Regions from separate parts of the Homo sapiens genome. Here all the other regions are linked to region 1. The links come from fine-mapping of genetic effects on gene expression. A gene starts in region 1. Each other region holds a variant in brackets. All regions are shown on one strand. Distances are between the middles of the regions.

Evidence for each region.
Region 2: its variant is fine-mapped to the expression of NTM in testis (GTEx, PIP 0.94).
Region 3: its variant is fine-mapped to the expression of NTM in tibial nerve (GTEx, PIP above 0.99).
Region 4: its variant is fine-mapped to the expression of NTM in lung (TOPMed, PIP above 0.99).

What each region holds. Positions count from the first base shown.
Region 1 is chr11:131,366,850-131,374,955 of GRCh38, forward strand. NTM (neurotrimin) reads left to right here and starts at 3,766. Exons shown (of 9, transcript NM_001352005.2): 1 at 3,766-4,039. The coding sequence starts at 3,958. RefSeq lists an enhancer at 7,229-7,891.
Region 2 is chr11:132,311,339-132,319,444 of GRCh38, forward strand. NTM (neurotrimin) reads left to right here. Exons shown (of 9, transcript NM_001352005.2): 7 at 3,214-3,365. Among named protein-coding and RNA genes, the nearest start is that of NTM-IT, 31 kb to the left of the region's middle. RefSeq lists an enhancer at 6,861-8,060. The variant T/C (reference allele first, on the strand shown) is at 3,107.
Region 3 is chr11:132,096,137-132,104,242 of GRCh38, forward strand. The region is part of intron 2 of NTM (neurotrimin); the gene reads left to right. Among named protein-coding and RNA genes, the nearest start is that of NTM-IT, 180 kb to the right of the region's middle. The variant C/T (reference allele first, on the strand shown) is at 4,283.
Region 4 is chr11:131,325,488-131,333,593 of GRCh38, forward strand. No RefSeq gene overlaps it. Among named protein-coding and RNA genes, the nearest start is that of NTM, 41 kb to the right of the region's middle. The variant C/T (reference allele first, on the strand shown) is at 3,363.

The sequences.
Region 1 (8,106 bases):
AAGCATTGAAAGAGCTATAGCTCTCAAGATAGTTTAGCATTTAGCAGTGTTCAGAACCCAAATTAGACTTCTGGTTCGGCAATCCCTGAGGATATATTTTGCCTCAATGAATGCACAGAGCATAATGCTGAAACTGCTCTGTCCAGGAGTCTTAGTTCCCAAGCACAGATAGCTTCTACCAATGACACATGGTAGACCACATCCATCTCAACTTGGTTAAAAACAGTAAAATTAATGAAAATTAGTTGATGGTTAGGATGTCTGGCTATGGTTGGGATGGGGGTGTAATTGCTATCCTGTTTCAGATGTGGAGTTGAAATGACTCAACCTAATCTCACAGCCCCTAGGGGACAGAACTGGGATTTGGACCCCAAGCAAAGCAGCCCTAAGTCCGTGCTCTCATTCAACAAGTCATGTCAGTGACGCCCAGTGTCTGTGCCTGCCAGGTACCAGACATGGTTACCTCACCTGTGTGCAGAAAGTAACTGCCAAGCATCATATTATGCTAAGGTTCATTTAAAAAATATTTTCAAGCTCTTCTTGCTATACAGAATGGTAGGATGGGGAATCTCAGACAAGTCACTAGAACCTCAAATATACTTGGTGTATTTCTAACTCTAGTTTTTAATTCATGGTATTCTCATCCAGCAACGTCCTTCCCTCTGCCTCAGATCTAGGATCAGAGTCACTCTCACGGTATTCATGACTCCCACCGTCTCCAAAGAACTTTACAAAACTATCATAGAAAATGACCACCTATTGTGTGCTGTCTGATGAAATTAATTATATGTACCAACCATTGGAAACTCAGTTAAGATTGAAAGCAGTATATGAGTCTTCCTGTAGTTTTGTATCAACATATGTATTGTTTTGTAATGTTTATTAATAATCTCATATGCTATTGAAAGCAACAAAAAGATTCTACGCTAGGATGCTTGATATCTATTTGAGTCCCTCACAGTATTTAGCACAGGATATTATTATTGAAGTTGATCTAAGATGAAAATGCTCAGGTTTAAATCCTGATTCCATTCCTTAACTGTTGTGTGGCTGTGGACAAGCTTTTTCTGAGCCTCAATGCCCTCATTTATAAAATGGGGATGATAATATCACCACTTCATAGGTTGTGATTATTTAATGAGAAAAATGCATGCAAAACACTGAGTATCATGTCTAGCACATTGCAAATAAATATCAATAAATATCAACTCCGATGATTAATTTCTTATTATCTGTACACACCTGGGAGCTTAATAAACATTGGTAACTGTATAGATTTATTACAGTTCAGGGTAAGGACATTTACAAATGTTATTGTCCACCTCTCCTGATTGGGACTAAAGACTTACCAGTGGCCCATGATCTTTATCATCGTTCTGGAGAGAAATGAAATGGTGGTGAAAGGAAGCCACCTTCCTTCTGCACTGCACTGTTATCACCTGCCGTCACAGTTGTTCCAAAGCATTTAATTACACATGTCACTATGCTGAGCACCGCACAAAAAGACTCATCTACAGATAAAATTCTTGTCCATTGGGAGCTCACGATATCAAGGACATTTTGATAGATATGTGAATTAGAACTTAATGGCAAGAAGAAAAAAAATACCAGTTAACATAAAACATCTTTAAAATGAGAAGGAGTATAATAAATTATTCCAGTTCTACAATTTTATAGACAAGAAGCCAAGGTTCACAGAGGTGAAAGGACCTGCCTGAGGTCCCTTAGTTGTGCAGAACTATGAGAAGGATCTTGAGGTCCCCAGATCTTGAGGTCCCAGGGCCCCTTCCTCTCAAGGTCACAAGATCCCACATTCCAGGCAGTGTTGTCCCTATTCATACACAACACAAGGTAAACTTGTGGGAGGCCAAGGCTGGAAGGACTGCTTGAGGCAAGGAGTTTGAAACCAGCCTGAGCAACATAGTGAGACTTCATCTCTACTATGTTGTAGAAAATTAAAAAAAAAAAAAAAATAGCTGGGCATAGTGGGTAAGGCAGGAGGGTTCCTTGAGCCCAGGAGTTCAAAGTTGCGGTGAGCTGTGATTGCACCACTGCACTCCAACCTGGGTGACGGGGCAAGAGTCTGTCAAAAACAAAAACAAAAAAGAAAGAAAAAAGAAAAAAGCCAAGGTAAATCGTACGTCTTAGACATGTGCAAAATGGCAGTGATGTTTTCATTTCACCTCTGTACACTAAAATACAAACAGACAATGAGTACTTTTCTTCTATGCAGTTTGAAAATACATGAACATTTTTATGGGGTTACAAGGAAGTATAATAATTAGCGGTGGAGTTCTAGAAGAATATTTTTAAAATGTGTGTCAAGGCATAGTAGGGGTATGAATGTGTCAGAATTAGCTAAGGAAGGTTCTGTGAGAAACTACATTTTCTTTTTCTTTTCTTTTTTTTTTTTTTTTTTCTTGAGACAGGGGCTGGCTCTGTCACCCAGACTGGATTGTAGTGGCGCCATCTTGGCTTACTGTGATCTCCGCCTCCCAGGCTCAAGCAATTCTCCTGCCTCAGCCACCCAAGTGGCTGGAACCACGGGTGCGCACCACCAAACCCAGATATTTTTAAGGAATTTTTTAGTAGAGATAGGGTTTCACCATGTTGCCCAGGCTGGTCTCGAATTCCTGAGCTCAGGCTACTGGCCTTCCTTGGCCTCCCAAAGTTGTGGGATTACAGGCGTGAGCCACAGTGCCCAGCCAGGAGCTACATTTTCTAGATTTTTTGTTCACATCCTCTAACTTGCTTCTCATAAGGGGAAGCCAAAGATTAGAATAAACTTCCAGGCCCTAGAATTAGACCTCTTAAGAAATCATTTATGTCCATTAGATTATTTCTGTTCGGTTTTTATTCTTTCCTATCACCAAGGAGGTTAATGTCTTCAACTGTCTGAGGAACTACACAAAGTTTACACTCAGAAAGCCCCTCCGCATGTCTACCCTGAATCTTTCTCGCTGCAGTTTAAATCACAGATGCTTCTATGATTGCTTTAGTGGATGTGGATTGACCAAGTCATGGGGAATAAACTCCTGCTTTGTTTTCTTTTGAAGAAGGTTCTCCATCTTCAGACTATAGAGCTTCTTCTCAAATACCAGGTACTTTGTACCTTTCCATTGTATCATATACACATGGATGAATTTAGGAAATTGACTTCTAAAAAGTGAATGAAAAAGAGGAGTAACATAGATGTTCTGAAACAGAAGTGACAGGAGGAGAAAATAGAAAGTTATTTACTATTTTCAAAGCAACTAAGTAGAAAGGTTGATGAAAGAGAGAAAAAAAAGCTGTCACTGAATGATATTTCCATTGGAGGGGAAAATAGGTACCAACAAATGAAAATTGCCTCATCTTTACAAGTTTCACTGAGCATGAAAATGTCCCTTTAAAATTTCCCATAAGCCATGGCTGGCTATGGGATTTTTCCAGTGCAAAGGGAATCTGAGTTCAGGAGGCCAGGGAATGCCAGGGGGAAAGGGATTTTCTGATACTCAGAAGACTCAGAGACTGTCAGTTTAAAAAATGAAAGTAATATAGAAGGGGCAAAGTGGCATTTATCATTCTATCTCTCCAGGCTCCTGTCTCTTTAATCAGCTAGCCTGATTTGCCCAGTAAATGATTCCTGAGAGTGTGTGTGCGTGTGTGTGTGTGTGTGTGCCCGCGCGCGTGTGTTGTAGCTCTGTCAATCCTTGGATTAGAACCAATGATTGCAGCTTGTAGGAGGGCTGTCCAGGGCCAGATTGTACAATGTGTCTCAGTGCCAGAGTATGAGTGGAGATAATTACGGAGAAGTCATACTCTCTCACACCCTCGGCTTTCTTGTTGTGTCCTTCAGCAAAACAGTGGATTTAAATCTCCTTGCACAAGCTTGAGAGCAACACAATCTATCAGGAAAGAAAGAAAGAAAAAAACCGAACCTGACAAAAAAGAAGAAAAAGAAGAAGAAAAAAAATCATGAAAACCATCCAGCCAAAAATGCACAATTCTATCTCTTGGGCAATCTTCACGGGGCTGGCTGCTCTGTGTCTCTTCCAAGGTAAGAGCTTGCTATTGATTTGCCTTCGGTAGACCCAGGAATTGTACAGTGTGCTTTATAAGATTTGCAGACTCCCCGAGTCGGCTGTGCTGCGCTGTTTGCAGGTGGAGGAGAGAGCGTTTAGACAGCATGGCTGGGACTTCATTCTCCCGACTAGGCTGTGAGAATATTGATTTGATTCTGGCTGCTACCGGAATGGGGGAATATGTATGTGCATAAGTAAAATGTGTTTGGTGCTCCTGTTAGGACTGTGCTTGTGTGCAAGGCTCCCTGGCTTCATGCACATTCTTGCACACATACACAACGGAGCACACATGTAAGCAGGGGGAAATGACAGATTCGGAGGGCAACAGGGTTGCTAATGTGTTGCTTATGCGACTGGGAAGAAATTACAAGAGGAAACTTTAAATATCGGCCAGCGAACTTGCAAAGCTTTTAAAAGGAGCAAAGGGGAAAATGCAGGCTAGAAAGAATCAGGTGCTTCCTGTGAGGTTCTGGTCAGCGATCCAGCTGCAAGGGATGAGTCAATTTGCAGCAGTGGGGGACAACTGTATTAGTTTTAAATGTGTTCGGGGGTGTGTTTGTGGCTGGGGTCGGAGGTGTGGAAGCGAGGGGAGCCGGGGCTCTGAAATTCTAAAAAGCTTTTCGAAGTTGAAGGGAGAGAGGCAATAAGAGTCGAATGCTAATTTTCTGTTTATTTATCGGCTGAGCCGGGAGCCCTGGGGGCTGCAGTTGAGTGCAAGCTTTGATGTCCCCAGTGCTGTGTTCTGTGCATTTGGAATCGGCCTCCACCTTGAGTCCATTTGCTGCACCGTGCCTCCCCACACCCCATCCCGGCTCTCACGTCTGTTCGTTCCAGCAACAGAATTATCCACTAATCTTCTTGCTCCCACCTGCCCTGTCCTTTGGGGTAACTAGTTTGCCTCTTTTATATTAAACACAGCTAAAACTCGTAAGGATCGAGACAAGCTGAGAAACTTTCCCAGGGTGGCCCAGCAGGGCTCCGGGAGGAGGAGCCCTCTCTTGGGAGGTGAGGCTCAGTCCTATGCAGTTGTATTCCCAGAGGAAAGTTCCCTCTGACCCGGTGAAAAACGATGGGGAGTCCCACCCCCTCGCCCTCTTCTCCCCCTGCAATATGGAGTTCTCCTGATCTGGACTGAGTCCTGAGCTGTAGTCCTGCTGGCTCTTCTCCGAGGTTAGGATTTAGGGATTGCTGCTGTCCTCTTGACATAGGTTGCAGTGGCTGCAGTGTGGATCCACGTAAGGTGGGCAGAGAGACCAGGCTGGAAGGATCAAATGTGTACACCCTTGACTGGGGCTCGATGAAGAAGGCAAGGGGTGGGGACAGGAGGGATCTGTGTCGGGTGATAAGGAAGTCCAAGGTGGTGAATCTTGCAGGGATGTCCATGATGTCGTCTGCTGCACCCAACCCCAGGAGGCATGGGCCTCAGGATTCCCTGCTGTCCCCTAGGGGCTTTGGTGGGTGTTTGAGTGAAGGGAATCAACTTGGAGGCATCCTCGATTGACTCCTCTTATATAATATGAAGCAGTATCAGTGTGTGTGTGTGTGCGTGCGTGTGTGTGCACCCCTGCTTGTTCTGGGTGCACAAGAATGAAGTGGGGAAGCTGAGTTCAGGATCGGGCAGTTTCGGAAAAGCAGTTTCTGTGGGGGTTGACAGCAAAAATGAAAACTAAGCAGGCAAGGGGTAGGGTGAGGGGTCAGAGGTAGGGAGAGGGAAGGTCCCAAGCCCTCAGTCATTTCTATCTGTCCCGAGATCCATGTCTCTTCTGCCTGTAACATCAAACTGGAGACAATGACCAAACTTCCACCATCAACAGCCCTGCTGGCTGCATGCCAGGAGCCCCAGGGCCATACTGAATTTACATATAAATTAGCATACGTGATTTTTTTTTTCATCAGAATAAATGCAGGGAAGCATAATATTTGCTCATACTTTGAATCATCTCTGAATAGATGAGTAGCAAAGTGGTGGTGCCAATTTCTCTAAGGTGCCATCTGACTTTGTGGTCTTGTTCCTAACTTGGGGTAGGGGTGGTGGCGACAGCACTATCTCAGACCTTATCACATTCTACCGAATCCGGAATTTCTCAAAAAGAATGATGGCCTTATTTGTGCTACCCTCACCCAGTCAGCCCTGAACAGGCTTCAGTGGTCGTAATAGAACAAGGTTGCCCAATTTTAACGCAGAACGACCCCCAAAGACCCGCATATTGCATGCCAGTCAGATGTGGCAAAGGTGATGTCTGTTTTCTCTTTCAGAGGAAGGAAGCTGAAGTCTGCCAGCTATCTCTTATCAAACTTGCAGAATTACTGAGGCAGCCCAGGTCTTGCCTGCAATAATCCACCCCTATTGCATTGACCCAGTGGGACTAGTTAGAATGCAGCACACATTCCAAGGCGATTTTTTCTTCTCCTCTGTTTTTGTTTTAAGCTGGTTCTTCCTAGAGCTGCTGCTTCCTGTGCCTCCTGCCTCTTGAAAAGGTGTCTGGTGCTAATGGCAGGTTAGGAACCCCTCCCTGACCTGCTCCTCCCCACAACCCAACCAGCAACCAAGATCCAGCTTAGGTAGGGAGGGGGGTTTCTGAGGGAATCAGCACTGATTAGTGACGCTGACAGGAGGGGGGATTAGCTCCCTGGGGCTCTGGCCCTAAGATACACCAGGGTTGATTAAGTGGAGGCATCTCGTTGCCGGGAGCAGACGCTACAGAACTGGATCAGGCGCTGTCCCTTGCAGAACACCCACCGCCCACCTTCTGCCACTGAGAGCCTCTGAAAGGAATGGCTGCTTGTGCTGCAGCTTCCTCTTTCTAGAAAACCGACCATTTCTCCTTCGAAGGATTATTGTTTCTTTTAACACCTTCAGATTTGCTTGGCTAGGTTCCTCTCTTACCTTTCTCATTTCCTCACCTCTCCTCACATCCCGCATCCGCTTAGCAGCTAGCCTGAGACACAGACAGGGCAGAGGAGAAGGAAAAGGTGCCTCGGCAAAGTTCACACTCCCCTTCGCGCAGCACCCGGGAGGTGGGCGGTGGGCGCCGTTCGGCTGGGCAGGCCGGCCAGGTTCCTGCCATGCACAGTACACACGTGGTGCCAGCAGCAGCTTGAGCTGGGCAATGCTTCTGATATTCAGGGGTGGCAGACGAGACCATAGCAATATCTACTGGCAAAGTGGAAACATCAGCCTGGGATGATGGGACCCTGGGCCTGACATAGGCATTGTGGGCTCTTGGAAGCATGGCAGTAAGGGGAGGGCGTCAGGGAGCCTCATCGAATGGAACCTGCCTGCCAGGCTTGGGGCTGCCAACTTGAGGCAAGTTCCTGGCAAGGCGTGCACAGTGGCACAAATGTAGCTCACCTCCGCCCTTTGTATTAGGAGGCCACCCCACCAATGGGGATGGCCGTCTGAGCATTCGCTCAAGCGTGCCTGGAGAGTGTCTGCCCTGGCCGGCAGGTCTCGCTGCATGAAGACCATTCTTGAAACTGCAGCTTTAGTTACCAGGCACAGAGCCTGGTCCTGGTCCTGATTCTTCCCTTTTTTGGTTCCCTTAAAGCCAAATATAAGCCCCCAGATCTCGTCTTATCAGCTGCAATGTACAGTCCCTGACTTCTGTTCTTTCTCAGTAACCTCCTTCCATAGCGCTGGTTTTAATTCAGGCGTCCTGCGTAGTGTCTTCAGGTGTGTCTCTTGGTTCCCTGCCTGAGGTGATAGGGTCTAGATTGCCTCCTGGCAGTTCCCTGGGTTCTGCTCTCTGCCTGCGTACTGTCTGCCAGGCTGATAGTGGCTCCTTTTCTTGATGGGCCAAACAACCTGGTGTTGATTTTAGCCAAAACTTGTCCCTTGGGATGAAGTGAGCTCTCTCAACATCCCAAGAAATGGCAGAATTTCTGAATCAATATGGGGCACATGATTCTGACGTGTACAGAAAACACATGCTGGAGAGATTTGTAATGCTCTTGCCATTCAATCATAGTAGAGGCACACTTTGGGTAGGATGAACAGGTCTGTGATTTGGCTTTTTTCCTAGTATTTTGGATTCAAGCTCAT
Region 2 (8,106 bases), 940 kb after region 1:
TTTGTTTTTTTAAAAAAAAATTTTTAAGGACACATTCTGGCAGCTTCTAGTGAGATGTATTATATTCATGTAGCCCATTTTACAGATGAAAGAACTAAGACACAAAGGGGAAAAACAAACTCATGAAGAAATAGAGCTGGCTTTCCCCTTCTTCCAAGAAAGAAGAATCAAGCAGACTGGAGCGTGTTTTTCTGATAAATATGGTTTCCTTACTTAGAAATTCTGTTTCACTTATGCGTTTCCTCTTCGACCTTCTTATTGTACTAAGAAGTAAACTGAGGCATAAAAATTAATTATTGAACCAAACCAAACAAAAAACCTATTGAGCTATGGGGTCAGTTCCCAAATCTTCAATTGTCTAGGTCTTAATGAAAAGTCATCAGCTGCGTCCTATTATTCCAATTCTTTATTGGAGAAAAATAGAAAAAATACATATAAGGGAAAGCAAAATCTTAGAGGAAAATAAAGCAAAAGTGGCCAATGGCGAGTAAAAGGATGAGAGAGCTCTCCTCTGTGCAGCATCTCTGGTCACAATAGGGACAGCTGTCCCTGCCACCATTCACCCAGGAGGAGAGAGCAGGCTGGCAGGGCCAGGGACAGTCTTCAGAGGCCCCTGGCTCAGGCAGCTTTGTTTCTGTCTTTCTTTCAGTTCTTCTGATGGCCTCTCCTTTTCTCCCCTTTCCATTTAGTGGTTTAGTCAGTTTTCCCTTCCCTGCACATGTATTTATTTATTTCCAGTGTGCTGGCATGAGACAGGGGCTGTCTTTCCTCCTGGCACCCAGCTCAGCTGCAGCATCCCTGCCTCTGAGGTCCTGGTCACAGCAAGTTGGGTCTGCCAGGTAGGTCTCCCAAGGCATATTGTGTCTGCCCTGGGGGGAAGGCCAGCTCTAGCCCATCTCCCATTTTCAGTGAGATGAGCAGACTACCAAGGCAGATTAAAGGAAACTGTGTGGTGAGGACAGGCAGTTTTCTCAAGAGTTAGTTAGGTGAGAAGTCTTTTGGCCACATGCCAGAATGACTCAACTGCACGCTATTGTATGTGTTATCCAACAAAGGAAGAGGAATGGAATGCTATACCTACGGAAGGCCACCCATCCAACAGGGGCATTGACCAATGAAAAGTCCACAGCTTTGGTAAGAAACTGAGGCCTGGAAGCAGTGCGGGATGGAGGGGATGTGTGCCCGCACAGAGAAGGGGAAAGCGTGTCCTCCCAGGAGCTGCAAAGCCTGCAAAGTGCTGCTGGCCCCCTGTGCTGTTTTTAGCTAAAGACATTTCAGAGCTGTCAAGCAGGAGCCTACTTTCAGTTAAGTCTCTCCCCACTGCAGAGCTGAAATCTCATTCACAGTTTGGTTATGATGGGAAAGCTTCCTCCCCATGGTGGACGAATGGTGTCAAAACGGCCAGTGGGATCAATCAGCCTGACTTGCTCGCAGAATCCTCCCGGTGAGTGGTATGGACAGCACCCCCTAGAGGATCAATGTATACATAGCAAGCTGGAAATGTAAAAGTGGCCTGTGGCTGCACAGCCGGATGCCTCATTCCATTTGGACAGTGCTAGCATTTTAATGAAGCCGTGGACTCAGGCCAGTTCATTGCCCCTAGCGTTTGGAGAGGAAGGCTCCCAGAGGAACATCTACATAATGAAAAGCAAGGCAAGTCTGTCCAACCTATCTTCTGACTTCCCTGGAGGCAGATGTTGGGTGAGAACTCCGGCCAGAACCTGCCTCTCTTTTCTGATCAAGGTTACTGTAAGTTGCAGGAGTGGAGAAATTATTCTGTAATCCCACAGAGACAGGTCTTCAGATAATGACAAAGCAGCTGCACTCTATGCCAAAAAACACTGTGACCCAGGGATGGGCAAGAGTCATCTATGTCTAACTCCATAGAAATACATTATACTGATGCCATTGTGCGGTCCGCAAAGCATTTCCTCATCATTGTCAAACAGCCTTGAGTACTGTTTGTTTTTCTCAATAGCATCCATTTGCCCCAAAGCATGTCCCCTGAATCTGTTCCAGTGTGCTCCCGCCATGTTATTATCTGCTTGCTACAAGCTGTGCTCCAGCCAGGCCCTAAACAGGAAACTTAGCTTTGTGTCCATATTCCCTGAGATCCTTCATCAAGAAGGGGTTTTTTGCCCCAAGAGTATTCATCTTTCCCATAGCATAGAATCAGCTTCAGGGCAAGGATTACAGATTGTTTGTTTCAGGGAAAAAGTAAAAGGTTGGCTTAAAGCTCATTCTAAGAAATGGACATTTCGGAATCTTGCAAAGGAAAGTAGGTGGTATCCATGATCGCCATAGGAATTGCTGTTAACAACTTCCTGAGAAGGAGGACATGTGCCTACTGACTCCAATAGCAGCTTTCTCCTTACCCTTTTATCTGCCTGGTAATAGAATCCATGGTTCTAATAAGCATACCTCACTTCCCCCAACTAACTAACTCCCTGTGGCATTTCTGTAGTGGCCCCCAGACCAATGCAAGTCCTTGTGGCTTACTGGGCTGCCATTGTGGAGCTCAGGGAGACTGTCCTGGCTCTAAAGGGACATATTCTTGGGAACCTCTAATCCTTCCAGACTAATCCTCTATAACAGTCTGGGCAGATCACTCCTCCCAAGCCCTTCAGAGTCCCCTGATGAGAAAAATGAGAAAATGATGATTTTTCTCCTCTTCATAGCCAAAAAATTAAGTATTATCTATACAATGCAATGCTTCTGGTGCTTCAGGAGAAATTAGATTACCAGGTGCTCGAAAAACATTTTTCTTTCAAATTCCTCAGGTGGCTCTTCTCTCAGAAGTTTGAGTTTTTCATTTGCATGGTTGTCATCATCACCATCACCATCATCATCATCAGGCCCACACATTTGAACCACCTACTGTGTGAATCGTATTGCTCTGAATGCCACACAGCTGGCAGGGGTTATTTGTTGTGGTGTTGCTGTCAGACTACAAAGCAAGGATGAGAGGCTAGGGAGATCAGATGTTCTGGTAGGAGTGCCCCTGGGCACATGTGTGAAAATCAAGAAACAACGTGTCACTCACTGTCTGTGAACTACTACTACATTATGGTGTGGTTGAGTGGATCAAATAATGGTTATAATGATG[T/C]CAGAAAGGGGGGCAAGGAGAAGACCAGGAATCCCTGGGCCTATCTTCTTCCTATGAGGACACATAACCATCTTGTTTTCTTCTTTTTTGTCTTTTGTTTCTCTCAGACTGATTGAAGGAAAGAAAGGGGTGAAAGTGGAAAACAGACCTTTCCTCTCAAAACTCATCTTCTTCAATGTCTCTGAACATGACTATGGGAACTACACTTGCGTGGCCTCCAACAAGCTGGGCCACACCAATGCCAGCATCATGCTATTTGGTGAGACTGTGCTCTGAGCTGGGCAAGAAGAGGGGAGAGGGTGCAGAACGGGAGAGCTGGGTGGGAGGGCCCCTCAAGGCCAGGGTCAGAGGTTAGCAGGGTATCAGTGGACATGGAGAGGGAGGAAAAAAAAGAGAGAGACACAGAAAGAAATGGAGAGAGAGGGACAGAGAGACAGGGAGGAGGCAGACAGAAAGAGAAAGAACAAGAGATACAGTTTACATGTATACAAAGTAGTATATGTATAGTACATGTATAAAAGTAGATCTCAGAAGTGGGAAAAGGAAAATGAAAAAGAATGTTCATGTTTCATTCTATAATGGAAAAGATCCCGAGATAGGAGAAAAATACTTTGGAATGCCAAAAATGACATTTGATTTTTTTTTTCTCAGTGATGATGGCTCCTAAGCTGACTGTGGGAATCATAATTGGGTAAAATAGTCAAGAACTCAGAGGGGAATGTTTGCTATTTCAGTCTTTGCTTACTGGCTTAGTGTAAAATTTTCCTTTTTCCAAAACTGTCTCCAGTCGCTGGGACATGAAGAGCCCCACCTTCGTCACATATCTGGCTACTGTATTGATATCAGAAGAAAGTGAGCGAGCTCCCTTGTAAACCCTGATGCCTGCCCCTGCTAGCAGACAGCTGTGCAGACATGAGCCTGCCTTCCTGGTGGTGCCACCAGGCAGGGCCCTGGGCCTCTCATGATGGCTCCATCCCTTGATGAACGCAGATTCTCCCTAAAGGCCACAGGATTAAATTCCGGTTGTGTTTTGGGCAAATTCCTTCATACCCCATCAAGTTCTTTGAGCTTGAGATTTTTCAAACCTGTCTCCCCAATCCCTCATGTTAACAAGCACTCTTGAATGTGATGGGGAAGTAAGGGGAGGCATTTGACAGATAATTTGCAAGAACACAAATTCCTTATATTCTGAAAACTTTGGGATAATCCCATGGCCCAGCCATGTGCCCTCGGTGCTAGCGTATGTGGCTTGCTCTGAATCACGAGCCTGCACTGCTTCACCACACGATCTCTGCTCACCCATTACATCCTCCTGCATTCTACCCGGCACAAATAGTAAATCCCAGCTTTATCTGAGAGAGCTGGGAAGGAGAAAGCCGCCCTTGATCCCCGAGCCAGTGGCTTGGAATGGGCAGAGCTGTGATTTGAGTGATTGATGTGTCTGGCATCTCTCACACAGGGATGATCATAAGAGCCCCTTGCATTTTTCATGCCTTTTTGCCTTTTTGGCAGGCGTCTGTCTGCATGAACAGAGACCAGGATTAGGAAGGAACAGACCCCTCCTTCCCTTGCTTTGCAAATCTAAATCTAAGGCTCCCCCTCAGTTTCCCATTAACCCAAGTCCTGCTCTCCACCCACAGCACTCCTCATCCTCACAGGGGTAGTCTTCCCCCCGCCACCCCCCACTTTGACCTACTCTCTCCTGACTTGGTTGCATGAAATGGTTCAGCCATTGGCTTTATCATGATTGTATACTTCCCCGGCTTCTTCTCCTTAAGCCATCTCAGGATGAGAATAGGGAGAAGCAGCAAACAAACAGTTCTCGTAAGAGTTGAATAGATGACATTTATGACAAGGAAAGCAGTGAAGTGCAGGTCATAAATATGCTCTTTTCAGCAGGCACACATGTAGCAATTACAATGTCTACTTCCCATGCCCCCCACCCTATGGGTCTATCAATCAGCATCTGCCCTGTGCCTCCTTTGGGACGTTTCTACCATTGCCAGCTCTCTGGCGTCCAGGGTTTTCTAAAAAGGACATGGAAAAGTAGTAGTATGTATTCAAATATGTTTAGAAAGAGTGGGTCACACCAAGATGAGTGGGGTACATGTGGGGATGTTCTTTAATGCCAGAAGTCCCGGAGCCTTAACATGCTAAATCTCTAGGGGAGAAAAAGTTTGCAGGATGTTTCAATCAGAAACCAATTTAATTTGTTAGCTTCAGTTGAGAGATCATTCCTGAGGAGTCCATCACTAGCAATGCTGCCTGGGTAACATAATTCTGTGGAGCTCGCAAACCCCATTCCTGTGTGAGATGAGTATTTGCAGCCAATAGTTCGGATGTTATTGTGGCTCCTAGGTTCATTATTGAGGCTCACCATCAATGAGGTCTTTTGACAAATATGAATTTGTTTGTTTGTTAGGGAATTTTCCATGTCAGTTTCCATTAAAAGCCAACAAGCACACTTGGGGCAGGTTGGAAAGCAGCATGTACTTTTTGCGAATATACAAACTTCTTGATGAAGTTAGAAAGGCAGCAAAATTATCATCATTTTGCCACCAACTTGTGCATAAACTGCACGCTCTCTCCAAGTGGCCTAGACGTTGAGAAGTGAGGAATTCTGGTGCAAGAGACCATAGTCGGCGGTCTGGGAATACTTAAGCCAAACGGGAGCAGGTTAGTCCTTCCCATCACAAGCACCTGATCGCTAAGGTGACAGGGCTTGCAGGGGCCTCTGAGAGTTCTGCTCCCGCACTCCTGAATCACAGTGCTCTGGGGAGCTCGTTCGTTCCTACCGTGGTGCCAGGGGCAAAAATTTCTGAATTTGGTGTCCTAAGATGAAACGATGGGGGTGGGGAAGTGGGAAACAAGTCTCATCTGGAAGGAAACTTTAGTCCTTTGTTATCCAGTTAGTAGCATGGCTCAGCATGAGCTAAGAGTGAATCCAACTGCACCAGAATATGTATGGCGTAACCAGCTCCCTGCCTTCCCAGTCACGGCATTCAATATGGAAACATAAAGCATGTCAGCGTTTCTCTTGCCGCACCTTGTCCTACGCCTTTGGTTTCTGTCTTCCTTTTTTTTATATAATCCCCCAGAAATGTCTGTGAAAGGCAGTATACAAACTATATATGACAAATATATAGCACTGTATATAATATATGTGTTTGTTCTCATTTTTCTCTCCTGTGTGTCCCTCAACCGATTTAGAACTAAATGAGCCTACGAGCTCAACTTTGTTGCAAGGTCAGTATCTTCCTTGCTTTATGTTTTGTCTCCCCTTCCCTCTATCCCAGAGGCCCCCTTCCCCTGCTGTGCATTACCCGAAGCACTTGTCTGTAAAGTGTCTTAGAGGATGTGGAAGGCTATTGAAGGAGGTGATTGATTGGGAGCCAGGGAGACTTCAAGCTCCCTTTGCTTTGCTCATCCCTTGCTCTCACTCCCCCAGGAGGGCTGGGAAGGGGAAAGAAAGAAAGAAAAGTATCGTTAAATTCTCAATGCCCAGGGATCAGCACAAAGGCAAAGGGTAGAGAGTGAGTCTGGGACCCATAGGAAGACTACTTCAACTGACTGAGCAGTTTTCATAAAAAGGGTCTTATTGATGACCCCTCAGCAGCAGAGTCAGACACCAAGCACATGATAATTCAGATATTCTGTCAAACGCATCAACTGGCTCATGAGGTTCTCCAAAGGAGGAGGATAGGCATGGCACTGCATGAGTGGTTGCCAATACACAGTGATTTCTAGGGGTGCTACTGGGGTCCAGGTTAGGGCCTGACGTCCAGTAGCTCTTTGGTCTTGGGTGACTCACTAAGCCTCATTTAGACTCAATTTCCTCTTCTTTACAATACAGTTGATCTACCTTATCCACCGTACAGAGTTGTTCCAACAGTCAATGGAGAATGCATGTTACAAAGGCTTTGAAAACTGTGAGGTGCATGTTGAATCTCCAGGCATAAACTGAAAGACAAGGATGCCCCTCAGTGGAACATCATAGGGGGTCCTTCACTCATTTCTCAGCCCCTTCTCCACAGTCCCTTTACATCCTCTTCCACTTCCAGTCCTCCCCTGCAAATATCTCCCGCGTCTCTTGCCTGTCTTTGCACATCCCTTCCAATTTTCTCACTAGCCTAGAGTGAGTGACTCATTAAGACTATGACTATGACTAAGCATCCAAGCAAGCAGTGGAATAAAATGGGTGCCGCGTGCACTGCTGTCACCCTGAGGACAGTGCTGACCACAGCAGTAGCCTTTCAGGAAGGCAGCTGTGAAGCCAGGGAGGGGAATGCTTCTCCCACCTTCCATCCCAATCCCCTGACCTCCTCTCCCCACCTCACCCCACCCTGTTCATCCCCTCACATTCTGGCCTTGCAAACTGTCATCAGAGGATGGCTGTAGACTTTGGAGGTGGAGGGGGAGATGAAAAGAAATGCATTACATGGGAAGGTGCATGACAGATGAAAAAAAGTACCTTTTTATCATGGAAAGAGTGAGGGCTGCATTACTCACTTTAGTGATGTACAGCACCACAGCGATGAGCCACAAGCAAGAAAATGAAACAAAGAAATAGAAAAAGTGAAGTCAATAGACTTATTCAGATTCAACCTATGATTCAACTTACGTTTATTGAACCTCCATGTGACTGTATTCACAGACGTAAAATAGAGAGCAGTAGAAAAGTGGCTAACAGCTGAGGAGCCAAGATGGCCGAATAGGAACAGCTCCAGTCTACAGCTCCCAGTGTGAGCGACGCAAAAGACAGGTGATTTCTGCATTTCCAACTGAGGTACCGGGTTCATCTCACTGGGGAGTGCCAGACAGTAGGTGCAGGACAGTGGGTGCAGCTCACCGTGTGCGAGCCGAAGCATGGCAAGGCATCGCCTTACCTGGGAAGCACAAGGGGTCAGGGAATTCCCTTTCCTAGTCAAAGAAAGCAGTGACCGTCGGCACCTGGAAAATCGAGTCACTCCCACCCTAATACTGTGCTTTTCCAACGGGCT
Region 3 (8,106 bases), 730 kb after region 1:
GACTTTCTCTCCCCATACTTTTTAGTCTTTTTTCCCCCCTTGAATGATTTTCTTCTTTATCTTTCTGACCAGCGACCTTTGATTGCAAGGAGCAACTCAGTTTCACATTACTAGAGTAACAGAGTGTGTTGTAATTGGCCGGGCATTGGTCTTGAAATGTCAGGGAAAGATTTATTTCCTAGTGCAACCTCTCTGGGTGCTAATTTTGCTATAGGCTGCAGGATAATGGTTCCCGCTCACAATGGGCGAGAGTTCCTAATCAGAATACAGGGCTGTAATTGGGTTGAAGGGATTTTAAATCATTAAAGTTGCATTTAGAATGGGGAATAGAAATAGAACCCCAAGATTGAATGACTCACTTAGTATTTAATGAGGGAGCCATGGAGTATTACTTATAATATTCGCCTAATGATCTTACAAGCAATGTAACTCCCCCCGCCCTCTAGGGCCTATTCACAAGGCACAATTCTGCAGTCTCAGACCCACCACTCTGGAGCAATTAATTACTGACCCATCAAGGAGCAATCAGGCTCCGCTCGGCCAGCAGAAGCGCTGATTTCTTCCCCCAGTGTCTCCTCACTCTTCATCTTCCTGCCTGCCTTGGTCTAGGGCCTGCGGGGAGGGGAGTCGACATTTACAAGCCATAAATCATCATGCAGTTTTTGGAAAACCCAGCTCACTATGAGAGGAACAGGGTGACCAAGGGTACCTGTGGAGAGTCTGAGAGGAGAAGGCATCAGAAGGAGGCTATGCTGGCCCTGGGAGTGTACAGTCTACAGGTTTCAGAGGATGTTCTCTGGTGCTGCAGACACTAAGTGTCTAGCACATAGTAGGCACTAAATAAATTGCAGCTTCCCATGATATGACTATGACCAAGGGTTACTAACCCAGCTGAATAGATTTGTTTCAGGTGGCGTGAAGCTCCAGCAGTTATTTTGGACTTAATCTCTAGGTAGATCTGTAAGACCAATGTTCCTGTAAATGGAATTCCTGAGAATTTAGGTTACAGAGAGGCTGCTTAAGACATATGTACCCCTTCCTTCTGCAGGTTCAGAAACAGCTCAGCTCTCTAGAGAGAGCACGCAAGTGTTGTGTGTGTGGTGGTCGTGTCATTGCTAATGGTCCTTCCTAAAGGGAACACACATTTGGGAGTGTGATTGACCTGGTCGAGTGGCACTGGAACCACAGCAGGTCACTGATCCTGAGTTAGCCTCACTTGGCTGTTGGTGCCACGTCGGCCAGGATGCTGGGGACACTCAGTCTGTGTTGCACTGGAGGCCAGGATGCTCCTGGGTGCTGATGGCTCACTGTTCTAAATCTCATCAGGGAATGTCACTTGTCCGTCCTGTGTCAGGCCTCAGAAAGACGACTTCCATCTCTTCTAGTATTTCAAGTAAAACAAAGTCTATGGGTTTCTTTGGTGATACCTCAGTTGTAACTTCTATTGTGTTGACATAACAACTGAGATATCATAATGAGTAAATAACACTGATATGACCTCCTAGGTCAGGCTGGCCTGGGAAAAAGCTTTCTATTTGAGAATGTCTTGAACATAGAGCCTGGAAGGTAGTAGAGACTTCGTGAACACTCGTGAACTTCTGATGAAAGGGCTTCTCCTCAAATACTTGGATCTGATAGCTTCATGCAGGTCATTGTGATGAGGACCTTTTCCATAAAGGAGCCAGAGGGAAAAGGGTTCCGGCATTGGTTGAGTTCCTCCCACTTGGGCAGATGGTAGGCTGCTCATCACACTAAAGTGGACTCATCCGTGATGCCCGTTTTGCAATTGAGGCAAACTTTACCCTTGGGAATAAACTAAAATATTCTACCAGTTCTGCTTTTGCCCAATTAAGGCAAAGAAAGATTCGTGGCAAGTATTTTGCTGTAACAGGTATTGTTATGAATATCCATTGATCCTGCTAGAAATAAATCTGTCATGATGTGGAAAGTTAAAACAGCTAGGATATTCTTTAATTATGAGGTGTTGACTGATTTAAATTTAGTAACTGTTAAAATATCAGTAGTTATATCATTAGTTTACCAAAAATTAAAAGTGATAATGCCTGCTTCATACAAATCAGAGCCAAACAGTGTAACTTTGTGCATGAAAGAACATGCTGTGCTTGATGTAATTAGTATATTCCCCCAAAATTGTGACTCATGATAAATCTAATAATATCTTAAATGCAAAAAAGGTAGTCCAATATTTTAAAGAATCCCATAGAGAATCTTTTGTGTGAAGAGCCTTTGGCGTTGCGGCCATCTCCATTAATTCATCTATTCTGAAACTTCTGGGGTCTGTGCTTTTCCTATAAAGAAGGCCACCTCTGTGCATGCTTCATGGGTGGCAGCTGTCTCCTACCCACGTGCTTGAATGACGAGACTAATGCTCTAGACCACGCACCTCAGTTGCCTGCAGATAGTGTCCCTGTCCCGATCTAATGCCAATGTCTTAGCTTTGCCTTTTCAGTCTTCTATTTCAACTCCAGGCAAGTCTGGCTACTAGCCCATAAAGTGCCTTTTAAGAAGTGGGAAACTTGCCCCCGTAGGCAAATATAGCCCCACAAGTACAAGGCGTGGTGAACTTGTAGCATCTCTATGTGAATTCCGTCAGGAGATGTAGCCCCAACCTGGGGTTGATAGCTTAACAAGCAAATAGTACCTGGACTTCAGCCTCACATGCTTCCTTGGCCAGGCACCCTTGTGCAGTGAACAACCTGCACAACCTGTATACAGCAGCCCTGCAGCTTGGACTGTTTTGATCACAACCAGAGCAATGTCCAAATAATCTGCCAAATATTTGTGCAAACATTATGTTCATGTTTAATCGGGAGCGATAGTTTTGTCTTCTTTATAAAAGGAGCAAATCCCCAGAAGCTGGTCAGGAGCACCAGCTGTTTACTGCCTGCAGAAGCCGCTGCTTATCTCCTTGTAACCACCTGCCTCTTAGAGATCATGTCTTAATTAACTCAGTGTTATCAAAACTGAAATTGTAGCAACACCTGTAACATCAAATTGTAAATGAGAGATAAAGGGGGAAAAACTCTGCTGACCAAGAAAGGGAGCTTGGAAACTCTCTCTTGAGCTGTAGGTAGTTGGCTCCAGGTTGATTGGTGGCAGTCTGCTGAGAATTAGAATCAGAGACTCATACATTATTCCATTTGGAAAGTGTCTTGGAGGTCTTCTAATCCAGTGGTGGTCAAATATTTTTTATCTCATGACACACAACTTATTCTTCTGATGTTCAATATATGCTGATATTTTCTATTTTATCTTATTTATTTCATTTTAAAAACTCACGGATAAAAATCATTCCATTGATTTCATGACCCACTACAGATTCACAACACAAAAAAACTGGAAAACAGTGATGTAGTCTAATTTCTAAAATCTAAAGGACTGAGGGACAAAGAGGTGAAGTGACTTGCCCCGGGTAGGTTATCAGTGGGTATTGTTCTTAAACCCAGGTCTATAGACTCCCTCCCAGTGGTTCTGTTCCCTGAAATCTACTAAATTCTGCCACTGCAGGACAGCTCCGAGAAGAAAAGCAAGTCTTAACTTAAGAAACAGGTCTTCTTGGGACCCTGCTACTTTCCGGATAACAAGCCTGAGTACCTACATAATACAAAATGTACCCTTTGAGGAGAAGGTCAGGTGCTTTCTCACATAAAAAGCATTGTAACAACTGGTGGTTTGAACGCCTCACTGCATTCCCATGCTGAAACAGTAGGGGCGCCATGCCTCCTAGTCTTGGTGAGCCTCCTTAAAACCTTAACACCCTGTGCTCTACCCCATCCTTTTCTTCCTCTTTCATTTCCTTCCCCCACTTTGCACCATTGAGATCCCTTTCTACTCACCACCCCCTAAACTTCTCCTTTGAGACACTGGACTAAAATCGTGAACAAAATAGGCATTCTCACAGAAACAGTAATTCCAAATTAAAACAAAAACAAAAGCAGTAACTTATTACACTATGAGAGACCTTTTTACATTTCTCTGCCTATATTTGCATGTTTTTAACATATTGAAAGAAGTTTTCCAAATGAAAGCTGTCTGATTGGTAACCACACCCATGTGTCCCATGGCAGTCACTCGTGGGAGCAATCTTGGGATCTAAACAGAGTTTGTTTAGTATCTTTGTGTGGTATTGATCAGCATCATTGATAAAGTATGCACTGGATGTTGTTTTCCCAGATCAGGGATTGATTTGGAAGATGGTTAGCCAGCACCACTATGATCTGACTGTGGGCAGGCGGATCATCACACTGGGGGGACACATAGG[C/T]CCAAAGAGGATCCAGCAGATTGAATTTGCATTATGCAAGCCCCCTTTGAGTTTCACCCACTAGCACATGCTTCTGTGACAGTTGAATTACCAGCTATAGAACTGGGGTGGCAGGAAGCAGGCCATCTCCATTAGCTTCTTTTGAATCCATTTCTTCATTTCCTTTGGCCCTGGGCATGTGGGCACAAACTTACTCGAATGGCCATATTCACAGAAGCACAACTTTCTACAGCAAGGTATTATCAGCTGTTGCTGTCTTCGGAAAGGCTTTATTGTCTCCTAGCTAAGGGAATCCCTCCTTTCCTTCCAGGGTTCACTACCAGCGCCCCACCCCCACGCATACATATACAGACACTGAGCTGTGTTTTGATATGTGAGGTGGGCTATCAGCTGTGATTTAATGACGAGTATCACTGTCAGACTTTACAAAATGGAATTTCATCAGATGGTGAGGGAAGACTTCTGCATAGAAACTACAGAGGGAAATTTGACAGCTTTTTCCATTCAGTTATCAAAGCATTTGCAGTTCAAAGCAGGTGAAACAATAATGTAATCTTAGCACTGAATGCTCATTTGTATCTGAGTGTTTCAATAAATAAAATGGTCAGGGAAATGAAAGCAGACCTGTTGTCTCCAATCCACTAAATTTAATATCCAGGGTATTGACTGACAGCTTTTTATCACCATAATTAGTATGGATTGTTCCTGAGGCCATTGATCAATCTTTCCTACCTCTATGGACTTGAGTGGCTGTTTTCTTCCTCTCCTGCCCTCCCCACCCTTTATTTTAATATTGATCGTGCCAGTTGTGTTCCACCGCAGAGAGGCTGCTCACTTAGGCAAAAGAAAACTCAGGATGAAGAGAGATGGCTGAGCAGCAGCCATTTCTAGGTGGCATCCACCTGTGACATCACTCTACCTCATCTATGTTGACCTTGTAACTTGACCTCTTGGTACCAGTGACCTTCAGCTCCTCAATACGATAACCAGGCACACCGTCTTCCCCACTGGGTGGAAGTTACACAAAGACTAGCTACAGAAGCCGTGGTCAGGAAATATCTGTTGAATTCATGAATACCCCTTCTGTAATGTTGTCAAGCTAAATAAGGGAGTTTGGATAGACCAAGGAACACAACCTTGTGTGTGTGTGTGTGTGTGTGTGTGTGTATGTTTGAATGTATGTGAATATCTATGATGTAACCTGTTCCATATAATGCAGGCCAGAAACCTAAGACCTTCTTATTTCTCACCGAGCTCTTCCAATTTGATGTTGTCCTCTTCTCAGTCTGTCTATCACTAGGCGTATACGGTGTGTAGGTATACACCTCACTATCTCTTGCCTTAACTGTTGCCATAATTCACTATCTCATTTCCCTGCCTCCTGTCCTGCCTCACCTAACTCCAACCTTGCATCTTCAAATCTTCCACACAGAGGACAGGCAGGTTTTTGTAAAATATAAACTATTATAGTCCTTGACTGTTTCACATCTAAGATCCTTGTCATGGCACAAAAAGCTTTCTGTAACCTGATCTCTCCTCCCTACTTCTCAGCCCCATTTCCCACCATTCCTACAGGTCACACTGCTGGAAGGTAGAATTGCAATGGATCCGTTCAGTCATTGCCTGCTTCACGCCTCTAAGTCTTGGCTTATGTTCTGTATTTTGCCTGCAGTAGCCTTCACATTCTTTTTCTCCTTGGCCACTCTTTCTCATTCTTCAGGAATTCATTCAGATGGTATCCCTTTCAGGAAACATTACTTTAGCTCCCAAAGTATCCGAACTATGACTTTTTCTGTCTTCTGAGATTTTAATAGAATATATACATATACTTTTTTATGCATCTCTATCCTATACTAGAGAATAAACCTGAAGGGGACAGGGGCTACGTGGTTTTTCGTTCTGTCTCCAATGCAAGGCACAACTCCTGGCTCCTAGGATGTGTTTCTTGCACTGGAAAGAAGTATTCCTAAGAAGAGAGTCAGTGTGCCTGAAGAGCTGGGGCATACATTATGTCAAACTGGATCTGTCTTGGGACACACAACGTGCTGTGCCATATAACTGCACCACGAACAAAAGCGAGGTGGATCTCACTTATTCTCAGGGTGGTGAGAAGAGATGGGAAAATATCCCTTCTTCTTATAAGCAGGTAGCAAGGTATCTTTCTGACCTTAAAGAATTCAGGTGTTGTCAACTGGTTATTTTCCACAGTGTGGAAGAGTTTTGCTATCTATACACTGGAGTAGTTTTCTCATTGGTCTTCCTAATGGAATTTCCCTCTGCCCCACTTTGTAGTACAGATCACCCATTTGCATAACTTTTCGGAAGGATGCTTCCTGAGGGGAGAGATGCCATGCATTTCTGGGAGTGCCCCATGAGCCCACACTGACCTTAGACAGCCCCCTTGCTCCCAATCTGCAAGCTGTGTGGAGCCTGTCTTCCCTGTTCCTGGCACAGCAGCCTGCCCCAACAGTTACAGGTGCTCGCACACATCAAATGCCTCTTGTTGAGGCATTAAACCAAGTGCAACTTTTCCGAACTGAGCACAACAGAGCCAAATTGGACTGGAAAGGCCACAGGTTCCTCAGGGCCTCAGGGAGCCTGTGGCATCTACATTGCAAATTGGCCCCATAGAAAAGCAACTGATGCCAGGGCCGGCCTTCATTTCATCCCTACCATGCCTATTGTGGAACCGCAGGGGCAGATGTTTCTGGAGGTGACCGCCTGGGCGCACACAGGCGCAGGCAGCACCTCCTCCTCACCGGCCTCTCTCCAGGCTTATGTAAGACAGATTGGACAGACTGATACCAATTGGCACATCGTCCCTGCCAGATTGGAATCAGGCCCTTCTACCATCTTTGGGGTCCACGGTGGCTCCAAATAAAATGTACAGAAGGAATGTGATTCTTAGCTACAGCCAATTTTCCCTTTGCTATTGCGCTGGCATTTCTAATCTCGGGCATTTTGTTGCTGTGGAGCACACCACTACAAATACAGTCTCCAGCTTAGGAACGTTGAGATTTGCAATCATGTGAAAATGCCTTTTCGTATTCCTACAGTTTGTCTGGATAATTTATTTATTTTAATGTATTATTTAGTGCAAAACTATTAAGTGAGCTTCAGGTTATATTGTTACGTTGTTGCTAATTCAGTTACATATGGCTGGGGCAGGTGACAACAAGGAGGGAAGATACCTATGGCACCTGCTCTTTCCTTTCCTGAGATTTCTGCAGCTTCTGCATGTAGATACTTAACCCTAAAAGGGAAGGTAGTGTGCATATTTTGCCTCCTGGATTCGTGTCTCAACTGTACCACTGAGTGGCTGTGAATTTAGTCAAGACACTTAATTCTTCCGAGACTTAATTTCCTTACCTCTAAAGGTCTTCCCAGGCTGGAGGGTTAAATGACGTGGTGCAGATGAAAATGCAGAGCAAGGAGCCTGACACACAACAGAGGGTGGGCAAATGCCTGTCCTCTCCCTTGCTGTCCCTTCAAGTGGCCTTCATCAGCAGACCTAGGCATAGCACCTCTGAACTTCAAATAGTCTATTAGTAGCAGGACCACATTTGAAGTTATGCGTATGGTATACACCAACTTGTATGTGTGTTGTTTAGGAAGGTCATTCTACAGAGTATATCTGATGCAGACCGGGACTGTGTTTTTCGTTGTTGTTGTTCTATTCCCAGTTGTGCAAGGCACAACTCCTGGCACCTAGGATGTGTTTGTTGCACTAGAAAGAAGTAATCCTAAGAAGAGAATCTGTGTGCCTTAAGAGCTGGGGCATCTTTATGTCAAAGTGGATCTGTTATGGTGCATGCAACAGGCTG
Region 4 (8,106 bases), 41 kb before region 1:
ACAAGGTATTAACATTCCCCACCCACAATAAGTACATTTCATGCCTCATATTCACCTCCTATACCCTGCTCCATACAACTTTGCCCAGCGTATAGCACTCTTAATTCTTTCCAATCATTCCTATAGCCGACCATACTCTCTCTCTCTGTGTGTGTGTGTGTGTGTGTGTGTGTGTGTGTGCGCGCGCGCGCGCGTACATGCATGCAAGTATATGTGTGTGTAAGCACTGCTATGGTTAACGACACACTATTCCAAAACATAGCACCCTGGCATTTGAGAAAACAGCAGAAGCAGGAAGATTGCTTTCACTTCCCCCAAGTCATTTTCCCCTGAAGCAGGTCATGAGATCCCTCATTCCAGAGATGCCCTTCCTCTACCTGGAGGGAAGGAGCACCCTTATCTCTGAAGACACCTTAACACCGAGCAGAATCTGAACAAACAGGGCCTTGTTAACTCCATCCCCAGTTTATTGCCATTAGATCAAACCCTTATGTCCAATCACACTTCCCCGCGGCTGTCCACTCTTCATCAGACCTCAGCAGAAAAACGCACGCATTCTCTTGTTTTGGGAGGTGTTTATTTCTGAAGGCTCTCACGTTATATAAAATTTGTGTTAAATACATATGTGTGCTTTTCTCTTGTCAATCTGTTTTATAATATGTGGTAACATGAAAAAGTATTTGTTTTTCCTACAGTATACATGTATATTAATTGTATTGATATGTATAGATGTACATATATAGGTATATACATTTTCAGATCTTGGATAGCTGACACAGGAAAGTTAATATCACACTGAGAGTGTGTGCTGCAGAGTCTTCAGAGCTGGGTCAAACTTCAGCTCTGCCAGTTACTAACTTTTGATTTTAAATGAGGTATGTAACATGTATAAGCCTTCCTTCTTATCTGGAAAATGGGGATAATAATATATGCCTTTCAGAGTTTGAAGATAATCCATTAAGCGAAGGAAGATAGTGTCGGGCTGAATGTTACTGTTATCGTTAAAAGTATAATAAAATACCATTGGACCCTTAACAGAATAAGAGATACATGTAAAATTGGAAAGGAAAGAAATCTGTGGAGACAGAAATGTAAGTTGGTGTGTTGTGTGTTTGCTTCTGTGATAAAGCACTCAAGGGCCTCATTCGGCCCGGGAACCCTGGAGAGTTCTCTGGGGAAGGCACCTTCTTGGACTGTGCTGCTGAGAACATTTGGGATGGGATGGTCCAGCCAGCAGTGTCCTGGCATTCAGCCCTGTGTCCTTCCAGAAGCTGGTGGCAGGGCTAACTGTGACCATCTGCCAGGTACCCTCAGTCGAGCGTATGGGGTCAGCTGAGGTTCTAGAGGGGTCTGGTCTTGACAGACTCACGTTTCCTAGAGCCATGTTCCAATAGACATGGAGGGGCTGTCCTCATCTCTTGTTTAAAAACATTTTCTCTTTGCCCATCCTCTTGATGCCTCTCCTCACAGGAGGCAAGGATAGAAGGCGAGGCACAGGCCACACGGGGCTCAGAGAGCCTCTGCCCTGATGCAGAGCCTGGGTGGCCAGGAGGTGTGAAACATGCAGATCCACTGGCTCTTGCATTCCTCGGGCCTCTGGTGGAAAGCAAATAAAAGATTCTGCTCTCTGGGGCTCTTAAGCCATCCTCCCTGGAAGCCAGTTCTACTCAAAAATGTTTAATTAGCATGCTCCCACCTTCCTAAAAATAGGAAAGAAAAATCAATAAGCACTAAATGGCTACAATCCTTGGATCAAAGTGATTTTAAGTAAGGTTGTCTTCAGCTTTAGACCCTCTCTCGCACTCTCCATCTGCAAGCAGAAGACGCAAACTTGGTCCTCACACCTGCATGAGTGCTCATGGCAGCAATGGGTCCTGTTAACCTGCAGAGGTTACCAGCTGGATTTGTAAGTAAAAAGGGACATTTCAAAGTCTACTTCCAAACCCTTGTGCCTTCAACTCTGGTGCTGAGATGTTTGCTAAGCTCAGATATTTGAGATGAGGAGGGCGTGTGGATCCAATCAATGTAATTAATTCTGACAACCTAGGTCCTAGGGTCTTTGCACGGGCTGCCTCTGCCTGGGATGCTCTTGCCCTTGGATGCAGGGCTAGCTGTCTCACTTCCTTAGGTCCTGACTCATACACCACTTCCTCAGCGAGGCTTTTCCTGATCCGACATTCCAAAGTTTCCCCAGGTTGAAACATCTCATTCCCCTCTTCTGCTCCATTTGTATTCCTTACTGCTGACCACTTTCTAACAAGGTAGATATTTTACTGACTTGACTTGTTTATTGTCTGTCTCCCTCTCGAGGAGGTGAAGAAGAGATTTTTGTCTGTGTGGAGCTCTAATGTATTCCAAGCCCTTGGAATAGTGCCTGGCATTTAGAAGGAATTCAGTCAGTATTGATTGGAGGACATCCAGTAGTTAAGAACCGGCCTTTACGGGCATCTCGGAGGCTCAGATTCCAGGTCCACCTCTTAACAGCTCTTCACCTTGGGCAATCCTTTAACTTAGCCTCTCTGCATCTTGGTCTCTTCATCTGTAAAATGGGGATGATAGTATAGTACCTGCTTCACAGAGCTGTTACAAAGATTAAGTGTGTCGATATATAAAGTATTTAGAACAGAGCTCTGACGCATGATGTGTGCTTTAAAAGTGTTTTTATGACTGTCATTATTTAAAAAAGACATTCAGTAATTATTAAGTACTTACTATATTCTGGGAACCACATCATGAACATATAAAGCAGTTAGAATAGTATGTGGCACAAATTAAGTACATAATAAATATTAAGTACTATTTTATTTTATGTCTTTTGATACTCAAAACCACACAGATACTATTATTAATAGATACTATTATTATTATTATTATTACATTTGGTGAGGTTACTTCACTCCCTCAAATCCAGCCTGCTGGTAAGGCTTAGATCCACAGAGCCATCCCCAAGCACCCCACAGCCATGCCTTTGTTATGGGACTACCCACCTGCCTCTATCCTGTTTCCAAGGCACGGGTGCTGTTGCTTACATATAGGCTGGTCCTTTTTTGCCTAGTTGTTGGTTTTAATGGCTATGAGAGAACACTCTGAGGCTCCTTGGATCACCCTCCACCCCTAAAAGTTCAAATTCAATCCAAGCCTCTTCTCTCTCTTACAGGATGAGTTACATGCAATTTATCATATGGGTCCTGTTGCTTGAAATTGTTTAAATTGGCTCAATACAGACACTATAAATCCAGAGCACAAAGCTTCTGAACCGACCTGGTTTGGGAACTGAGGCTGTGGCTTTTCCCTGAGGGCTTGCAGTATATTTGCTGCCCTATATAACCAAAATTGTATCCTGTTCCTTCCTGCAGCACCTG[C/T]TACCTGGCAGAGCCACACTATCTTCCCTCACAGCCGAGGCTGATGGGGCTGGGAAAGAAGCCCCACAGAGCCATGGCTGGGGTTGTGGAACAGGCAGAGGCAAGTGCTCACACCTTCCTACTGTCTTAGGGTGGAGATGAGTTTTCAGAGCTGAGGGTGGGGAGGCAGGCAGTCAGCAGTGGGGGAGGCAGGCAGTCAGCAATGAGTGAGGCAGGCAGTTTTGAGTGGCAGCACTGCCTCTAGGGATGTTTCCAAGCATCACCCATGACTAGGTTTCAGTTTCTTTCGCATCATGGGCTGAAATCCCCTCTTGCCCCAGTAAGGGCAGGCCAGCATGGCCAAGAGGCCTTGCTGCCATTTAGGAAACAGTGTCCTGAATTTGTGGCTACGGGGTCCAGAGCTTATCCCAGGAGGAAATGTGCGACTGAGTTGCAGGAGAGCCTCTTGTGTGGAGGCAAGCTAGTGATTAAGATTTGAACTGCCCCTGCATCAAGTTCAACAAGAGAGGCACTGTCTAAGTGGGGCAACTGAAGAAGTCACCATAGGTAGGATCAGGGAAGGGGAGATACAGAGGAATGGCTGCATCCATGCAGCGCTGCAAGAAAAAGACAAATCCGTATGCTGATGGGGCTCTATCCGTGGGAAGAACAAGCAGAGGAGCACAGTCCACCAAAGCCACGGGTGCAGGATGAGAGGAAGGCAGAGTTGAAGGGAACATGACCTGTAAGAGAAAATGGAGCATTGGAGGGAAGGGGAAAGTGGCCCCACTAACTCACAGAGCTGAGCAATGTTGCAAAGAAAGCTTCCCTTGCGGGGAGGCCCAAGCGTTGGCTGCAGAAGTGGCCTTAGCTCTTGTCATCGCCACCCCTGTGTCAGAGGTGAGGCTGATAGCAGGCCAAGGAGTCAAGGAGGCACCGAAGCTAAGGGGAGGCAGATGGCACAGCCAGCTCTATGCGTCCTGGAAGGCCCTTCCCGCCCCCACATAAATTCCATAGCTTATTTGCTCTTTCTTCCTTTTATTTTTGTCTTAAATGTAAAATTTGGTGTCACTCTTCTGGGGTAAACAACAAACTGGTCTTTGGAAGGGATCCACTTGAATAGCAAATATTACAAAGCAAAAGTGACGAGTGTAAATGCGTCCTCTTATGAGGGCATCAGAACCTTGCTCAGCTGCCCCATTGGAGGACACATGGAAAGCTCAGCTTCCAGGGCAGGAAAGGCCAATGGTATCCCCTTCTCCTGGAGCTCAGTAGGCACAACCCGGGGGTCTAAGGGTATGGTAGCAGGCAGCGCCTCCTAATGGGTAACCCTGGACAAACGAGCCTAGGGAGGGAGAGGTGAGTGTTCTGGGCTAAGGAAGCGCCAGGCCAGAAAATAAACATGGCAGCCCCAAGTCAACTATGGAGCTCCGTGGTCTCCAGCTGTCTCATTCCTTTGCTGTTTCCCACCATGAATCAGGGGTCATTTCTCATGGGTCATTTCTCCCCCATTTCCTCTTTCCTCTCTGCACAAGATGGAATCTCAGAACTCCCAAGCATTTTAATTTTTTTTAATGAGGAAGCAGCGAGCTGACAAATTTCTTGGAGCACAATAATAAAATATCAGAGAAAAGTAGAACAGTCTCATATGATTTTTCTCAGTCCATTTTGCCTCCTAAATATTCATCCAAAATAGCGTATTAAACAGTAAAAAATAACAATGCTTTATTATGCAGTGCTCACACTCGAGTGTGCGTGGCACCGTTGTGACACCTGGACTCCTTGTCTGTCCGTTTGTTTTTCCTTCTGTTTCCTCTTCTCTCATTGGAGTGAGGAAAGAAGAGGGGAAAGGGGAGCACTTAGAAGAAGGGGCACAGAGGGGCAGAAGGACCAGGATGGGGCAAAAGGGAGAAGAGGAAGACAGAACACAGAGGGGAGAGGGGCAAGGGCGTTAGTGCTTAAACACCTGCCATAAATTAAAATCCTGAAATCACACTCCTGGTCAATAGTTTTTGAATTTTTTTTAATAGAGAGGAGAAATGTAAAAGTGGCTAGGAGTGGAGCTAAAGGCAAATTTGGTTTTTCTCATTAGACTAAGACTATTTTCTGTTTTTGGCAAATCAGATTCTGCTTTGAAAGTAAAGAGGTGGGTGGTGTAAGCTAAAAATAAAATCCTAAGCCCTTGCCATAGGCTGAGTGGACCCCTTCTTGGCAAATGGGGCCCCAGAAAAACCTTAAAAACTTAGCTCCCAGCCACAGCAAGATGGGAGGTCAAACACGTTGTGCTGCGTCCCCTCCCTTTTGCGTTTAGATACAACAACCAACCAGCATTTAGCAGAGACCATAAGACAGATGGAACGGACGCTTTGTGGCAACAAGATTTCAAATGATAAACAGGACCTAAGGCCGTGCCAGGCAGCAGTTAAATCATGCACCCCAGACTTAAAGCATAAGCTAGGTTCCAATTGCCACAAGGTTCTTTCTTTTTCTCTAGCAGCTAAACAAGCACTGGCCTTGAGATAAGCAAAATTAAAACATACACAACTCATCAGCTCGCAGAGGCTGACTAACAGACCCCTGTTTCACCAGCCATGACAACACCTTTGATTAGACAGGGACTGATTTCAGTAACTTTCTCCAGGTAAGAACACTGACCATGCAGTGGTTCCGGCTGATTTACAGAGACTGTGCACTTGCGTGCCTTCATGCCCTGAGACCTTTTGACAAATAAGACCTAATTGTAATACATTTAAATGCTCCGTCTCCACCCCAAAGTGAACATGGGTCATATGTTACATGCATGTTTGTTCAGTACGTGTGTGTCGGGATCACCTTCGTGAATATTCATAGCTCCTCCTGTCACCTGTTAAACAGGTATGTTTAGCCAACCCATTCAGCATAAAGCTGTTAGTCCAGCAAATCCTCCTGTGAAGTGCCTGCCTGGGTTTGGCCGAGGCAGGTCTCTCAGCCCAGGGGATGGCCCTCTTGCAGGCTGTAACCCTCTATAAGAAATAAAGTCTCTCCCTTTCCTTTTCTAAATTTATAAATTTGGATTTTTTTTAAAGTTACCAGTGGTGTGGGAGCTTTTATGTATTCTCTAAGCAGAGTAGGAAGAGAATCCCAGAATTAGAAAATATGGAATAATCAGATTCTGTTTAACGTCTTTCCTGGCATCCAGGGAGATTACACCTAAGCCACTTAAGCTGAAGTCTCAAGGGTTGCAGTTGGTCCCATTTCTATTAAAATCTTGCCTAACAGGAGAGCACAGTAACTTTTTTTTATTAAAGAGGAAAAGAAAAAAGCTGATGATGATGCTAGTCTAACTCTAAATGATACTAGTTCATCTAATCACTCAACGATGCAGTATGTTTACCATCTAATTTCATCCAAAACACCCTAAACTGAAAATAAAGTGCTGCTTAATAGACATGCAAAGATGTCATTTCATTTTGCTGAATGTTCTAGTAGCAACTACTAATTATTTCAATGTACTTTTTTTCTGTAATTATTTGGAACAAACTATTCAGCACTCCCCTATTAACTTCAGAAATATTTCAGTGTCCTACAGAAATTCAGTAGTATAAATTTAAATAGCTTTTTCCCTCCTTTCTTCAATGTGCTGGGAAGACAGCTGGATGAGGTTGAGGGAGGAAACACATCTTGTACAAACAGAAACAACCAAAGAAGAGTAAGAAAGAAAGAAATCCCACCCCTGAACTCTCTCCTTTTACATCTGGGCCCCTTTCTTCCCACATTCAATTTTCTTCAGGTTCCTGTGGGCAGGGTTATAGAGCTAATCCCCCAGATCTTCCTTTGGTTGCTGATGGACTGAGCAGCCAGCAGAGAAATGGCAGACACAGGGAGCAGGGCTGTCAAGGAAAGCAGTTGGGAGGAACTCTGTCGTCTTCCTGGAGTGTTTTTTAATCAGTCTCCTCCAGAGCCAACCCCTGATTCCTGTTGATATCATTTAGAATGAAGAAGATGGGGTCAGGCGTGGTGATGCATGCCTGTAATCCCAGCACTTTGGAAGGCCGAGGCAGGCAGATCACTTGAGGTCAGGAGTTCTAGACCAGTCTGGCCAACATGGTGAAACCCCATCTCTACTAAAAATACAAAAATTAGCTGGGTGTGGTGACACACCCCTGTAGTCCCAGCTACTAGGGAGGCTGAGGCAGGAGAATTGCCTGAACCCAGGGAGCAGAGGTTGCAGTGAGCCAAGATCGTGGCATTGCACTCCAGCCTGGGTGGCCAGAGAGAGGGACCACTCCTAGCCACCCGAGGAGCCGGATTGCTAGGCTTGGCTGATCCTGACAGGGGCTCCAATGTCCGTCTGAAAAGGAGGGCAATATCCCATCCATTCCTCTTCAGGGCACACTCTACCCTGAGGGCCACATCACAGCCACAACTTCAGCAGCACAGGGCTAAGAGGGGCTGAGCGTTGGCAGGTACTGAGTGGTGCACCAAGTGTCCTACCCAAGGAACAGCAAGGCTGAGAGGATCTCATCTAGCATCCTCATTTGACCAACCTGTGGCACAAACCTTATGAGCAGGAGATTTTCCCAGAGCAAGAGGAAGAAATGATAACAGCAGGTGAACTCACCACCAGCATTTGGGTTTCTGCTGCGAGTGTATTCACTGCTCCTGAGTCCACACATCTTCATTAAAACCTCGTCATGCATAGCGAGCACTGCTGAGAGAGCTTGTCATTTTACAATGCTCTTGTGCCTACATTCACCTATGTGAGAGTGACTACCAGGTGTGGGAG